Homo sapiens: one gene and its partners. The protein of the gene in region 1 purifies or fractionates together with the protein of each later gene. This does not show direct contact. Each region holds a gene or a part of one and is shown in the gene's direction. Other genes may lie near its edges. The genes, in order: DCLRE1B, SLC39A10, FNBP1L and KANSL2.

What was found.
Region 2: the proteins of DCLRE1B (region 1) and SLC39A10 purify together in Homo sapiens (affinity purification with mass spectrometry; one large-scale study listed by BioGRID and IntAct). This does not show direct contact.
Region 3: the proteins of DCLRE1B (region 1) and FNBP1L purify together in Homo sapiens (affinity purification with mass spectrometry; one large-scale study listed by BioGRID and IntAct). This does not show direct contact.
Region 4: the proteins of DCLRE1B (region 1) and KANSL2 purify together in Homo sapiens (affinity purification with mass spectrometry; one large-scale study listed by BioGRID and IntAct). This does not show direct contact.

The regions. Positions count from the first base shown.
Region 1 is NC_000001.11:113,911,456-113,914,653, forward strand, and holds the end of DCLRE1B (5' exonuclease Apollo), read left to right. Parts: coding exon 1-736; 3' UTR 737-2,631; downstream 2,632-3,198.
Region 2 is NC_000002.12:195,719,663-195,723,229, forward strand, and holds part of SLC39A10 (zinc transporter ZIP10 precursor), read left to right. Parts: intron 1-3,567. UniProt on the Homo sapiens protein: Zinc-influx transporter. When associated with SLC39A6, the heterodimer formed by SLC39A10 and SLC39A6 mediates cellular zinc uptake to trigger cells to undergo epithelial-to-mesenchymal transition (EMT).
Region 3 is NC_000001.11:93,446,568-93,450,934, forward strand, and holds the start of FNBP1L (formin-binding protein 1-like), read left to right. Parts: upstream 1-1,550; 5' UTR 1,551-1,714; coding exon 1,715-1,738; intron 1,739-4,367. UniProt on the Homo sapiens protein: Required to coordinate membrane tubulation with reorganization of the actin cytoskeleton during endocytosis. May bind to lipids such as phosphatidylinositol 4,5-bisphosphate and phosphatidylserine and promote membrane invagination and the formation of tubules.
Region 4 is NC_000012.12:48,672,197-48,675,763, reverse strand, and holds part of KANSL2 (KAT8 regulatory NSL complex subunit 2), read left to right. Parts: intron 1-3,567. UniProt on the Homo sapiens protein: Non-catalytic component of the NSL histone acetyltransferase complex, a multiprotein complex that mediates histone H4 acetylation at 'Lys-5'- and 'Lys-8' (H4K5ac and H4K8ac) at transcription start sites and promotes transcription initiation.

The DNA.
Region 1 (3,198 bases):
ACTGAAGCCTTGCCAGGTGGTGCCCATTGTAAGTCGGCGGCCCTGTGGAGGCTTTCAGGACAGTCTGAGCCCCAGGATCTCCGTGCCCCTGATTCCGGACTCTGTACAGCAATACATGAGTTCTTCCTCTAGAAAACCAAGCCTTCTCTGGCTGTTAGAAAGGAGGCTAAAGAGGCCGAGAACCCAAGGTGTTGTGTTTGAATCCCCTGAGGAAAGTGCTGATCAATCTCAAGCTGACAGAGACTCAAAGAAGGCCAAGAAAGAGAAACTTTCTCCCTGGCCTGCGGACCTTGAAAAGCAGCCTTCCCACCATCCTTTGCGGATCAAGAAGCAGTTGTTCCCAGATCTCTATAGCAAAGAATGGAACAAGGCAGTGCCTTTCTGTGAGTCTCAAAAGAGGGTGACTATGTTGACGGCCCCACTGGGATTTTCAGTGCACTTAAGGTCTACAGATGAGGAGTTTATTTCTCAAAAAACCAGGGAGGAAATTGGTTTAGGGTCCCCCTTGGTACCCATGGGAGATGATGATGGAGGTCCAGAAGCCACAGGGAATCAGAGTGCCTGGATGGGCCATGGTTCTCCCCTGTCCCACAGCAGCAAGGGCACCCCTCTTCTAGCTACTGAATTCAGGGGTCTAGCACTCAAATATCTTCTGACTCCAGTGAACTTTTTCCAGGCAGGGTATTCTTCCAGGAGATTTGACCAGCAAGTGGAAAAATACCATAAACCCTGCTGAAGACAGGAGAGTACAGAATGACAACATTGAGCCCACACTGCAGTTTTGAAGATAGTAACTGATGGCTGGTGGGAAAGAGTTTGTTTTTGGGGCCTACTTTTCTATCTTTACAAGACTCTTATGGGCCCACCGTGGAGCAGCACTTCCCAAAACTTGTTCACTGGGGTCCTCGTGCCTATGGAATCCTTCTTTTTATAACTAAGTTTAAGAAATACTTTTTTTATAAAATCTTTGGAGTATGCGTGAGCAAATTAAAAGTTCTTTGAAGTCCTACAGTAACTTAATCTGTTTAACCTTGTTTAACCCAGTATTTCTCAAACTTTTGTGAACATGCAATCATCTTATGTGGGTACAGAAAGAGGTAAAGAGTCTGAATCAAAAAGGACCAGGTTATTGCTGTTGCTGTTTTGTGGTGTCATGAGCCATTCTCCATGTCCCCTTCTCCCTCTTCTCAGATCAAAATCCCTAGGGAGTTCTATTTTTAAAATTATGAACTATGGCGCTGCATGCTTCAATCCTGAACGTCACTGACTTGCTGTGACCATCCAAATAATTTTCCTGTCTCTGCCTCTGGGAGGGAACAGGAAGCGATGAAGAGGTCTTGGAACAGTAGTGAAAATTCTACCTCTATGTCCTTCATGAGGATGTGCAGTATCCCAGTATCACTGGGATCCATGTGGAACAGAGCCAGCTGGGGGGTTGGGCAGCTCTCTCCAAGGCAGTACCTAGAGCCCAGCTGAACAACAAGGCTTTGGGTGTGAAGGGACTCCCCAGCCTGGAGACCCTATTTGGCTGAAACAGTTACAAAATATCAAATGTGTTGTCAGATATTCCTCCAATTGTTCACATAGCTGGGATATTTGTTGCTCCCCTCACCCCTTGGATTATGTAGGGAGCCAGTGCACACAGCCTGTTTGTTTTAGTATCCAAGGAAGAGACCAAGGAGCCAGCTGGCGGGAAGGGGTGGGGGTGTGCAGTCTGCCCTGTCCTTCTGCTCATAACCTGACAAAATGCCAAACTAGTAAGCAGGATAGCTGATACCACGGCTATGAGGGAGTAGGCTCTGAGAGGGCACAGACTTGTGGAGCTGGGCGTCTGGATCAAAACTGCTTTGGGATGGAACCTCGAGCCCTAGCAGTGAAGAAGATTCCATTTCTTGTCCAGGGGATTTAAAAGAGTTTTCTGCTTTGAGAGAGAAATAGAGAGTTTAGAAAGCAATTGCTCTTGGGAAAGCTATACACAGCTCTGTTTTGTCAATGACCTTTGTTGTAAGTCTCCCAACGTCCTATTAGGAGCCACAGCAGGTGAGGCATTTGGTGCAGCAGGAAACATGGGGACTGCCTAGGCTCGAATCTGTGGCACCCTGAGCAATTACTTAAATTGTGGAGCCTAGTTCCTCATCTGTAAGATGGACTTGAGATTCCTACCTCTCATGATTACTATGGAGATTGAATAATTGGTAAAATTCTCCTAGCTCAGTGACTGCCACAGGATGGGTCTTTCAGATTTTGGTTCTCTTTAGCTTCTGGTTCTTGAAAGAAATTAATCTGTATATAACATAAGAAACTTTGAAAGTCAAAAAAACAAAAAATTTTAATTCCTCGTAGATTAATTGATTTGCTATCTTTTAGTTTTTTTTTCTATGCATGTAGATGTATTAAATATGTAAATGTTTTTCAAAGTTGAGGTAATATTGTATAGAATTTTATAGCCTACATTTTAATTTCTTGATATCTTAAGCATTTCACTTATTAGATATTGTTCAAAAATGCCATTTTTAATATTTGTATAATACCCTATCATGTGAGTATACCTTAACTAAGCCATTCCCATATTCAACATTTTGTGTACTGTTTTTCTAATTACATATATTACAATGAACAACCTTATGCATATATTTTGCATTTTTATTTCCTTAAAGTAAATTACTGGAGTTAGATTATAGTTTTAAGTTCTTGATACCAATTGTGCTGAATTGCCCTCCAGAAAGGTTTCCTGACCATCTTTTCTGCAGACAGGATAGCATTAAAATACCTTGAAGACTCATTAGTTTAAATGAGATCACAAGAACGGTACATGTTAACACATGGAAAATCATCTCATGTGTTAACTTAATAAATAGCTACTAAACTGTGTGGGCAAATTTAGCTGGACTTCCTCTAGCATCCTCTAGCTGTCTGACTTCTAGGCGGCCGAAGGTGGCTGGGAGAGATAAGGTAGTTCTCAGTACAGGGGTTCCCATATTGGCGTTATCTTCTAGCAACAAGGGAGCCCGTCTACTCTTGGCACATGCTGTGTCACACCTGTTCCTTCAAGTGGGTTCTATATGCATTCAGATAGGGGAGGGGAAGCAAAAGACTTTGAGGAATTTAGTTGTTGGTAGCATGTTTGCATTTGTTTGTTTGGCTTTTTTTTGGAGACAGGTTTTAGCTCTGTCACTCAGGCTGGAGTGCAGTGGCACA
Region 2 (3,567 bases), on another chromosome or scaffold:
GCTGGAGTGCAGTGGCATGATCTTGACTCACTTCAGCCTCTGTCCCCTGGGTTCAAGCGATTCTCATGCCTCAAGCCTCCCAAGTAGCTGGGACTACAGGCATGGGCCACTACGCCTGGCTAATTTTTGTTTTTTTTTTTTTTTCGAGACAGAGTTTTGCTCTTGTTGCCCAGGATGGAGTACAATGGTGTGATCTCGGCTCACCTCAACCTCCGCCTCCCGGGTTCAAGTAATTCTCCTGCCTCAGCCTCCTGAGTAGCTGCGATTACAGGCTTGTGCCACCACGCCTGGCTAATTTTGTAGTTTTAGTAGAGACGGGGTTTCTCCATGTTGGTCAGGCTGGTCTCGAACTCCTGACCTCAGGTGATCTGCCTGCCTCGGCCTCCCAAAGTCCTGGGATTACAGGCATGAGCCACTGCGCCCGGCCATAATTTTTGTATTTTTAGTAGAGACAGGGTTTCACCATGTTGGCCAGGCTGGTTTTGAACTCCTGACCTCAAGTGATCTGCCTGCCTCGGCCTCCCAAAGTGCCGAGATTACAGGTGTGAGCCACTGCACCTGGCCTTAACTTTTTCTTTTTTACCAAGGTAATGGATGTAAACCATTTCTTTTTTATTTTAGTTGGTATTTATTGGTTTACCAATTTAGTTTCTCTCCACATGCAATACTACTTTGGTTTTCTTCTTTTATAAATTAAAAAACAGTAGCTTAAGATGTAAATACTCATTCACATGGAAAATATCTGAGGGAAATGGAGATGGCATTAATTTGAAAGAAAAAATGCTAATGCCACCTTTCGAATATGCAAGGGATTTCTTCATGTGTTTTCTAATTTAATTTTTCTGAAAACTCACCTGGCTATGAAATGTCTGTCATTTGACTGTGCGTAATTGTCTTGATTTGTAGTATTTGCTCATTTTGAATAGAACTTATCATATAAATTTCTTGAAAAATCAATAACTTCTTACATAAAGCAGTAAAAATATATTAGTGCATACTTGGTGCTAATTCCTTGGGGCTTGATTCTGTATGGTTTCATTTACCTTGCCAACTTCAGACACATAATCTTATCTCTTGTTCATGCCCATTATCCTTTATCCAGACCAAGTCATCACCGCCTTTGTGGTGTTTTTGCTTAGACAGTTTTCATAGTCTTTATATCTCTGGTTTTATTCTGTTGTAGTATATCATTGCCAGATATATCTGCTTAAATGTGATGTTCTTATGTAATTAAAGTCTTCCAGTAGCTTTCCTGACATATAAAATAGAGCTGGATTTTATATATTTTTTTCCCCCTGTAACAGGGTCTCCCTCTGTTGCCCAGGCTGGAGTGCAGTGGCTTGATCACGGCTTAGTGCAGCCTTGACCTCCTGGGTTCAAATGATCCTTCTACCTCAGCCTCCTGAGTAGCTGGGACTACAGGCGTGCACCACCATGCCCAGCTAATTTTTGTATTTTTGATAGATAGGGTGTTGTCATGTTGCCCAAGCTGGTCTTGAACTCCTGGGCTCAAGTGATCCACCTCCCTCAACCTCCTAAAGTGCTGGGATTACAGGTGTGAGCCACCACGCCCAGCTATGAGTCACACTTTCAATGACCTTCACTTCTTCTCTCTACCTAGCTTTTTAGTGTTACCTGCAGTACATCCTGTTACATGTTTTTCATTTCAACTAAATGCAATTCACCAAATGTGTAGTGTGGGTGCCTGAATCTGTTTCCTTGTTTATACCATTCTCCTACATGGCTGGCCCAAATACTTCTATTCCTAGTTTATCATGTTAAGAATCTTCAACTTTATTACTGTCTTTTACCTCATGCCTTGGATTACTGTTTCCTCTTAGTTTTATTGTTTGCTTTCTCGGGGTCCTTCACCCATTTTCTTGTTAGATGCCGTATTTCTTAAACTGTAGTTTTTTAATGCACAGATACGACGTCTTATGCTCTTCTCTAACTATCACATACTGCTGTTGGTCTATCACATACTGCTGTTAGCCTAACTCCACAAATCAAGGCTATCAGTTTTTATATATGAGTTAACATGTTGCCTCATATTTAATCTTTCACTTAAAAACTATTTTTAGTAATAGACTTGGATAATCACGCATACACCTCCATAATATACTAGAAAAACCTCCAACTTTCCTTCCTGTTCATCTACCCACTACCTGGTAAATGGAGTGTCAGGCTACTTCAAGTTTAAGTGTGGTTTTACTGAATTGCCATAACCTTGAAGGATTCACTCAGACACAGAATTGAAAACAAGTTGGAGATTAAGGATGGTTACCTTCTTACCACCCTTTTTCTGTCTGCAATTTCTCATTGAAGGAGTGACACACAAGGGCTGATAACCACATGTAGAACAAATGCATTACATACATTAATAGCTAGGGAAGCCCTTGATACCCAATGCAGAGCTCTGGTAAAAAACTGGAGCGGAGAACTCTGCTTGGACCAGGAACCCCTAGTGAGACATTCAGACCTCAGATGTCTACCTGTTTTATCCCACAAATCAGAGGCTGAGATGTTGCTACTGCTATGAGAAGATATGTCAAGCCAGAGTATACTGAATTTTGCTAGAGGGAAAGGAGTGGGCTTTTAGAAAATGTGCATTTTTCCTAATGTTAAATTGATGTAAACTATACCATACTGTAGCTGGATAGGCTACTAGGGAAGAAACAGTGTAAAGAAATGACCCAGCTTCCTCTTCTGGAGGTGACAGAAAGGGCTCTGGTCCTTGTATCTATCAACAAGTTAGGAAGTGGTCTAGGGACCATAAATAAAGGAAGTAAAAATATGATTGTGGAGCCTAGTTTTTGCCTTAAGGCACAGCAAAGGGCACTTTTTGTACAATAGGACCAGGTCAGTGTCCCTACTCTGATCAGATCATCTATTCTTACTCGGAGAGGAACAGGATGTGGAGAAAGGCATACAAGCTTCTTCCTCAGAACTCCCAAGCACAGGGAAAATCATTCCTCTATAGGTTGAGTTAGAAGCATGGGCAGATAGAGCCAGGGAGAAGTCCACTTCCCACTTTCTAGGTTAAGATGTTGACAAAGTAGTATAGTATGTCACATTTCAGGATAATTTATTTGATCTAAAACCTATTTTGCCCTGTTACATTTTTCATTATGAATTCTTAAAACAATTCTGAGATTTCCATACTGACCTCAGACCCTTGGAGGAAAAACATGTTTTCCAATTACATTGCAATACATGGAGACTGACCCTCAGTTGGTAATTCCAAGTTCTAGTGTTCCCTTTCTGAACAGATTGCTGTTTTTCCCGTGGTATATTCACTGAGACACAGAATTGAAAACAAGTTGTTTTAGAGATTAATGATGGTTACCTTCTTAGCACTTACCCCTTTTTCTCTCTGCAGTTTCTGCAGGTGTTTTTTGTAGTTGTGTTTAGGAATGTGATACGTAAAGACATATCCTTAGAACCATAGAATAACATATAGTTCAGGGAATTTGACTGTAAGAGACATGAAGAAATTGAAAGCATTTGAGGAAATAGCAAACTCACATCTCATTTTGTGTTTGCTCTCTGGTGTGGTAATGGGTTAAA
Region 3 (4,367 bases), about 20 Mb from region 1:
TTGCAAAATACATTCATGATTCTAGGGAGTGATAGGAAGTGATGGGAGAGGCGGTTAACAGTGTTAGGTGACATAAATAAACGAAGAAATTATTTTGGAATAGAGGCAATGTAGAAAAATGTTAGAAAGTGTTGTTCAATCCTTCACAGGCTTTTCACTGCATGGTACAAAGTTAAGCATTTAAAAATTGGCTATAACCCACTTGGAAGAGGGCATTTGTATGCTTAAAGTGGCCTCAGAAAAGGACAGCAGAGAATTTAGGAAGATTAGCAACTGGACTGTCAGGCGAACTCAGGCTGTTGGCCTCAACTCCAAGAGGGAGCGCAGCTAGGCAAAAGAATACGGATTAAGCGGAAGAGGTTGGAACACCTGTCCAGGCCAGGTAGGGGAGGAGTTTCAATGCTGACAAAGAACCCGTTGGGAGAGCTTCCTAAAACACCCAGCTGTCATGACGCACTGAGGAGTACTCTACTAGTTGACTGTTTTGAAGTGTGTGTGTGTGCGCTTGCTTGCTTTAGGAGACAAGCTATTAATACTAAAGCATATGTTAGGGAGTTGCTCAGCGTACTTGATATCTAGTAGCACCAGCCAAACTAGCTAACAGCCTTTCCATGGAGATAGGCCAGGAAGTAGCTCCATAGAGAAAAAAGGAAGTAGTGGACCTGCCTCCAAGGTTCCGATACTGGGAGGTGAAAGAGATCTGAAGTTCCGAATAAGCTGTTTACACTACCAGAGAAAAATCTGGCTCCCATCCAACCCTCACCCACGAGGTGCCCATTCCAGACATGGGGCAAGCTGCCTTCTCATCTTCCGCAGGTGACAGCTCGGCTCACATTTGTCCACGTCTTCCATCTCGTGCGCTGGCAACATACCTAAATGATTACTGGAAGAGCTGCCTCTTTTTATAATTTCCTGACAGAATTTATAAAATTAAAATATTTAATTAAAGACAGAATCGGGGACATGTTGCCTTCACATTTGCTGTTCAACCTGTGCACATTTTGGTGGTTCCCAAGAATCGTCATGCCAAAGCATCAGGCTTGAAAGGAGAGATCACCTTAAGCATCAAGATTTAAAAAAATAAAACACAACTCTCCTCAGTCTAAACTCTAGGATTTGGATGACGCTTCCCTGTCAAGGTTTCTCCCGAGTGGAGGAGACAAGAGGCAGGAAAGGCAGGTAACTAAAATTGCCTCATGTAAAGGGGCTCAGCGCAGAGGAGGAATGAGATAATAGCGGCGGTGGGGGTCTTTTCCCTTCTCTCCCTTTCTATCTTGGAAACAGGGGTCCGACTGGCAGCGGAGTGGGGGCAGTCCAAGCTCCGGGGTACCTGCAGGAGGAGACTCGACCAGCGAGAGGGGCCAGCGAGGGTGACCAGGTGCCCGCTTGGGGACCCCGCCGGCGGTGGCCAGGCTAGCCCAGGTCCTCCCCGATCCCAGGATGCACTGCGCCCCGCCCCCTCCCCGCGCCGCGTTCCGCCTCCCCTCGGCCCCGGCCCCCTCCCGCCCAGCGCGGGGAGGCGGGGACGCGTCGGCGGCGGAGGCTTCTCCAGTCGCGTCTTTCTCACTCACTGGGGAGCCCGGCGGTGGCGGCACCTTTCGAGGTAGACCCGCTGAGCTGCTAGCCCGCCGGCCAGCGAGTGAGAGGTCGGACAGACTGTGGAGCCGACAGACTGAAGGACAGCGGCACCGCCAGACGGCCAGAAAGTTCCGCCATGAGCTGGGGCACGGAGCTGTGGGTGAGTCGGGGAGAGGGGCGCCCCGCACGGACCCCGGCCCCTGAGAAGCGCGGGTTGGGCGGGCGCCGCGGACCCTCGGCGGTGAAAGCGCGCTCCGCCGTCCTCGGTCCGGCGCTGGCGGAGGGTGAGGGTCCCGCTCGTCTTTGTGTGCAGACTCCTCTTCCCTTCTCGGCCGGGGGTCTAGGGGGCCGCTAGTCCGTGCTCCCGCCTTTGCCGCCGTGGTGCAGCTCGGGCGGCGCCCGGGACGGCCGGGGGAGCAGCCCGCGGGCTCCTGCGTGCGCCGTGATCCCCTCTTGTTCCTTCTCCCTCCTCCACCTTCACTTTTCCCGACGCCTGGCTTCGCGCCCGGCGGCTCCTCTCTTCCTTTGTATCTCTCCTCCCGGAGGCGGGGGAGGGGGCCCATTGTCCCCAAGGGGCGCTGTTCGAGGGCGGGGAGGGGACCGGCCGCGATTCCTCGCCCGGGCCAGGTCCGCGGGGCTAGGGCGTCGCCCGTCTGGGGCGGCGCCGCCCAGAGCCCTCGCCCCAGGTATGGGGACCCAGGCGGCTTTGTTCGGAGCCCGGCCTCGGGCCAGCCAGGCCCAGCCCACACGCACATTTCTCTCTCCCTGCCTCAGTGCTTCGGGCGGGCACAGCTTCGAGGGACTCCGGTTTGGCCACCCCCGGCTGCAGCCTTTGGGCTGGTGGGTTGGTTTTGGGGGCTGAATTAAATCGAGTGATCGATGAGGAAGCTAATTTTACCAAAAGGAGCGTACGGTCTCCCTGTTGCTTTACTTCCCTTTCCGTTCTTTATTCTCACTTGTTCTTTCTCCTTCGTTCTCTCCTTTCCTTTCCTCCTTGCCTTTCTTTGGCACAGGAGGCTCCAGACAATGCCCAGTGTCTGGCCAAGGTACGGGCGGAGGGTAATAGGTCGGAGAATTTGCTCCTGGCGCCGGCGCGGAAGGGTCGAGGTGTGGAGGGCAGTGATTTCTCAGGTGCGGAGGGCAGTGATTTCTCAGGTGCGGCCGGGAGAACTGGGGGCGTGGGGGCGCTGTCCCGAGAGCCGCCTGGCCTCAGCCACTCCCCTTTTTATTCCACCTGTGCCTGTTTTCCGTGCCTTTTGTTCGCGAGGATCTCGTGAAATCACTGCAGAGAAAGGGGAGAAATAACTTTTGAGTATGTGTGTGCCCAGCTAGGGTGGGAGTGAAAGCCAATGGGTTAATTGAAAGGCAAAATGTTTTCTTATTTTTCACGTCTACTCATAGATTGGGAATCTTAGAACTGTGAGACTTTAGAGTCCATCTAGTGAATGCTTTACTTAGCCAGCCAGGAATCTCTTGTGCAACATTCTGTACAAGTGCTTACCCAGTCTGAAAACACACCACCCAAGAGAAAATACCTTAGGAGCCCCTTCATTCCGTTTCTTAGATAGCATTAATTGTTCTTATATTGGGGAGGATTGCATGGTAAATGAATTACATAAAGTTTAATTCTTTTACATTGGTTAGTTTCTCAGGCATTATTGGCCTTTTTCCCTTACACTTTGTGCATTCTATAATTGATTATAGTGAATTATCAATGAAAGGAAATGGGTATAGTTTTATTTTAAATTTTTAAATTTTTTATTTTTTTCATGCCTACCAGAGTGCATTCATTCGTTTTTATAATTACAAAATATTTTAACTTTTGCCTACTTAAATGACTTGTGCTTCAAAGGAAACTAAAATGTAAGTAGAATACTTCTAAAAAGTAAACATAGGAAAACAGTGGAGGCATGTTATTTAGATTTAACTCTTAAGATTTTTAAAAAATTCACTTTGTATCACACTAAAGAATAACAGTTTTAAGGAAAAACATTTTAGTGAATAATAAAATGTGATTTTAAAAGTTTTTTTTTTAAACTTATGGTACTACCTAAGGAAACGATTCCATTCCTCTACTGTCTCCTATAATTTGGTTACTTTCAGCATTTAAAGAGTTTCTCAGCAATCTGAAAAGATAAACTGTAGAAGAGATGGGAATTTTTGTTCTAACTAAAATTTGCTTTGTGTCCTTTGGAAATTCTGAAAAAGATTTTTAATTTTTCTCAACATTTAATACATCTCCATATTTTAAGATTTTTAGTTTGAGGATTTGAGGGAAACATTTATTAGAAACTAAGTAATGTAGAGTGAACTAATATCAACTTGGTGTCTGAAACTTAGATAAGCAGAACTTGGTGTAGAGGACTATTGTTGGGACTAGAAGAAACCTTAGAAAAATTTGAGTATGCTTCCTCTTTTTACTGTTCTCAGTTTTGAAAAAGGATTATACTTCTAATGGATTGTAATGTAATACAAACAACCTGTACTGTGCTCTTGCCATTGAGGAATTTGAGGTTGGGAAATTCTCTCGAAATTTTGGATTTAGAAACCAGTTCTCCTATTATTTCATATTTAGAATCACATTACTGTCCCAAAGAGTTAATTATTGAGAATATGTTGTTACAGAAAAATGATATGTAGCCATGCACTTAAACCTGAGTCTGTTTCTTGTAACAATCATTGGAATTTTTATTGCTATTTTAATGCTTCTTAAGTCTTATGTTAAATTTGAGAAAAAAAGGAATTCAATAGAACGGCTCTAATACTGACTTTGGGGGACTTTTGTAGTG
Region 4 (3,567 bases), on another chromosome or scaffold:
CATCTTTAAGTAAATGAGCCATCTGTTACATGAACCAGCCGGCATTCATTTAGTAGGTTGCTTACTGCCCCCACCAAATGATTTCTAATAACTTCTAATAGTAATGGCTTCAGATAGGTACATTTCAGTTCCAGACCATTGGTTAAATTCTCTTCTGACAGGGTGCAGTGAAATTAATTTTTTAAAACAATTTTTATTTTTCTCATTTTCAGTATTCAAAAAGTGAATTTCATTTTAACAAACTCTATATTAGGTTAAGGCCTCAGTATTTTAGGTTACAGACAGGTTAATGTAGGCATAACCCATTTTTCTGAAGATGTAACTTAGTCACCTTGTGAAACCGTTATGTATTTATTTTTGAGACGGACTCTCACTCTGTTGCCAGGCTGGAGCGCAGTGGCACGATCTCAGCTCACTGCAACCTTTGCCTCCTGGGTTCAAGCAATTCTTCTGCCTCAGCCTCCCTAGTAGCTGGGACTACAGGCGCACGCCGCTGTGCCCGGCTAATTTCTTTCTTTTTTTTGTATTTTAGTAGAGATGGGGTTTCACCATGTTGCCCAGGCTGGTCTCAAACTCCAGAGCTCAGGCAGTATGCCCACCTCGGTCTCCCAAAGTGCTAGAATTACAGGCTTGAGCCACCGTGCCCAGCCAACTGTTACATATTTTTAAAGCCTTTTCACATTTTCTGATAGTCTGTTAGCTTTTGTCATTTCTGTAATTTGCTGGTTTTATTTTATTTTATTTATTTTTAAATTTATTTTTTATTAATTTTATTTTATTATATATTATTTTTATTTATTTATTTAATTTGTTTATTTTATTTAATTTTTTATTTTTGGAGACAGAGTCTCGTTCTGTCGCCCAGGCTGGAGCGCGGTGGTGCGATCTCGGCTCACTGTAATCTCTGCCTACCAGGTTCAAGTGATTCTCCTGCCTCAGCCTCCCGAGTAGCTGGGATTATAGGTGCTTGCCACCATACCTGGCTAATTTTTGTATTTTTAGTAGAGAGGCTGTTTTGCCATGTTGGCCAGGCTGGTCTCGAACTCCTGACCTCAAGTGATCCACCCACCTTGGCCTTGTGCACCACACCTGGCCCTTTGCTGGTTTTATTAACCATGTTTTGATTTTTCTTAATTTCTTTTCACTTTTACTTCAGAATATAGTTAAGTACCTCTTATACACAGGTAATATTGGCTTTTGTTTATATTTATGAAGAAATTTTGGCAGAAATTACTTGCTCTCAGTCCTAAAGTTAATTTTGTATATTCTGTGTATTTCAGTGCCTTAACAGCTAGTTTTTAAAAATAAAGCAGAGGCTGGCCACAGTGGCTCACGCCTGTAATCCTAGCACTTTGGGAGGCCGAGTCGGGTGGAATGCCTGAACTCAGGAGTTTGAGACCAGCCTGGGAAACATGGTGAAACCCCATCTCTACTAAAAATACAAAAAATAAAAAAATTAGCCAGGTGTGGTGGCACACGCCTGCAATCTCAACTACTGTGGAGGCTGAGGCACGAGAATTGCTTGAACCCGGGAGGCGGAGGTTGCAGTGAGCCAACATTGTGCCACTTCAGTGCAGCCTGGGAAACAGAGCAAGACTCTGTCTTAAAAACGAAAAAGTAATAAAGCATAATTTTTTGACTTAAAATTAGTATAATTTATGTGTTTTGCCTTTTCAATAAAATTTTTACTCAGTATGAAACTTAAGGTATATAGCTTGTTCTTTGTATTTATGTAATGATCAGACGGTGAGTGAAACAAAATTTTTAAAATTCAAAGTTATTCACTTATTTATTTATTTATTTATTTATTTTTGAGACATGGTCTTGCTCTGTCACCCAGGTTGGAGTGCAGTGGCGCCATCTCAGCTCACTGCAGCCTCCCACTCCCAGGCTGAAGTGATCCTTTCACCTCAGTCTCCTGAGTATCTGGGACTACAGGTATACACCACCGTGCCCAGCTAACTTTTGTATTTTTTGTATTGACAGGGTTTTATCATGTTACAGCCCAGGCTGGTCTTGAACTCCCAGGCTCAAGCAATCTGCCTGCCTCGGCCTCCCAAAGTGCTGGGATTACAGGCGTGAGCTATCACACCTGGCCTCATCTCTTAATTTTGATTGCATAAATCAGAGCCAGAGAACAGTCTACCATATATTAATCACTAGCAAAACTTTTAGAAGTTCTTTTTTTTTTTTTTTCTTTTTTTGAGATGGAGTCTTGCTCTGTCACCCAGGCTGGAATGCAGTGGCACGATCTCAGCTCACTGCAACCTCTGCCTCCCGGGTTCAAGCAATTCTCCTGCCCCAGCCTCCCGAGTAGCTGGGATTATAGGCGCCCACCACCATACCTGGTTGATTTTCGTATTTTCAGTAGAGACGGGGTTTCGCCATGTTGGCCAGGCTGGTCTTGAACACCTGACCTCAGGTGATTCGCCTGCCTTGGCCTCCCAAGGTGCTAGGATTACAGGTGTGAGCCACCGTGCCTGGCCAGATATTCTTTTAGTTTATAATTGGCAGCAAAGCTTAATCAAGTTGATATGGATCCGTGCCAGATCTTTGGCAATTAAGGGTTAACCTAGGGTACTGAATTTTGAGAATATTGTCAAGAAAATTAGCTGAGGACAGGGTATAGCCCATTTTGACTAGTTATTTGAGGGTCCATATGAGCTCCAATATAGGCCTATATTTTTTAAACAATTACAAATTTTGGCTGGGCACAGTGGCTCATGCCTGTAATCCCACCACTTTGGGAGGCCGAGGCTGGAAGATCGATCTGAGGTCAGGAGTTAAGACCAGCCTGACCAACATGGAGAAACCCCATCTCTACTGAAAATATAAAAATTAGCTGGGCGTGGTGGTAGGTGCCTGTAATGCCAGCTACTTGGGAGGCTGAGACAGGAGAATCACTTGAACCTGGGAAGCGGAGGTTGCAGTGAGCCAAGGTTGTGCCACTGCACTCCAGCCTGGGTGACAGAGCAAGACTGTCTCAAAAAAAAAAATTATTTGATGTTGGTATCTTTAGTGCTTTAATTAAAATATATTGCCAGGTGCAGTAGCTTATGCGTTTAATTCCAGCACTTTGTGAGGCTGAGGCGGGAGCATCGCTTAAACCCAGGGGTTCAAGCCTGGACAACATGGTGAAATCCCATCTCTACAAAAAATACAAAAATTAACCAAGTGGGGTGGTGCACACCTGTAGTCCCAGCTACTCGGCAGGCTGACGTGGGAGGATCGCTTGAGCCCAGGAAGCAAAGGTTATAGTGAGCTGTGATTGATTGCACCACTGCACTCCATCCTGGGTGACAAGAGTGAGACCTTATCTCAAAAAAAAAATATATATATATATATATATATATACGTATATATATATATACATGTATATATATATACGTATATATACATGTATATATGTATATGTGAAAGATACATGTTAATTGAACACTTTAAAGCTGTCTTGACTGGTAAGTGATGATTTCATATCAAAACATTAAGAATGTAGATTAATAAAAGTTTAAAGTGTTCCGCATGTTCACTTTCTTTTCAACATAATGCAAATAGCTGGGAAAAATA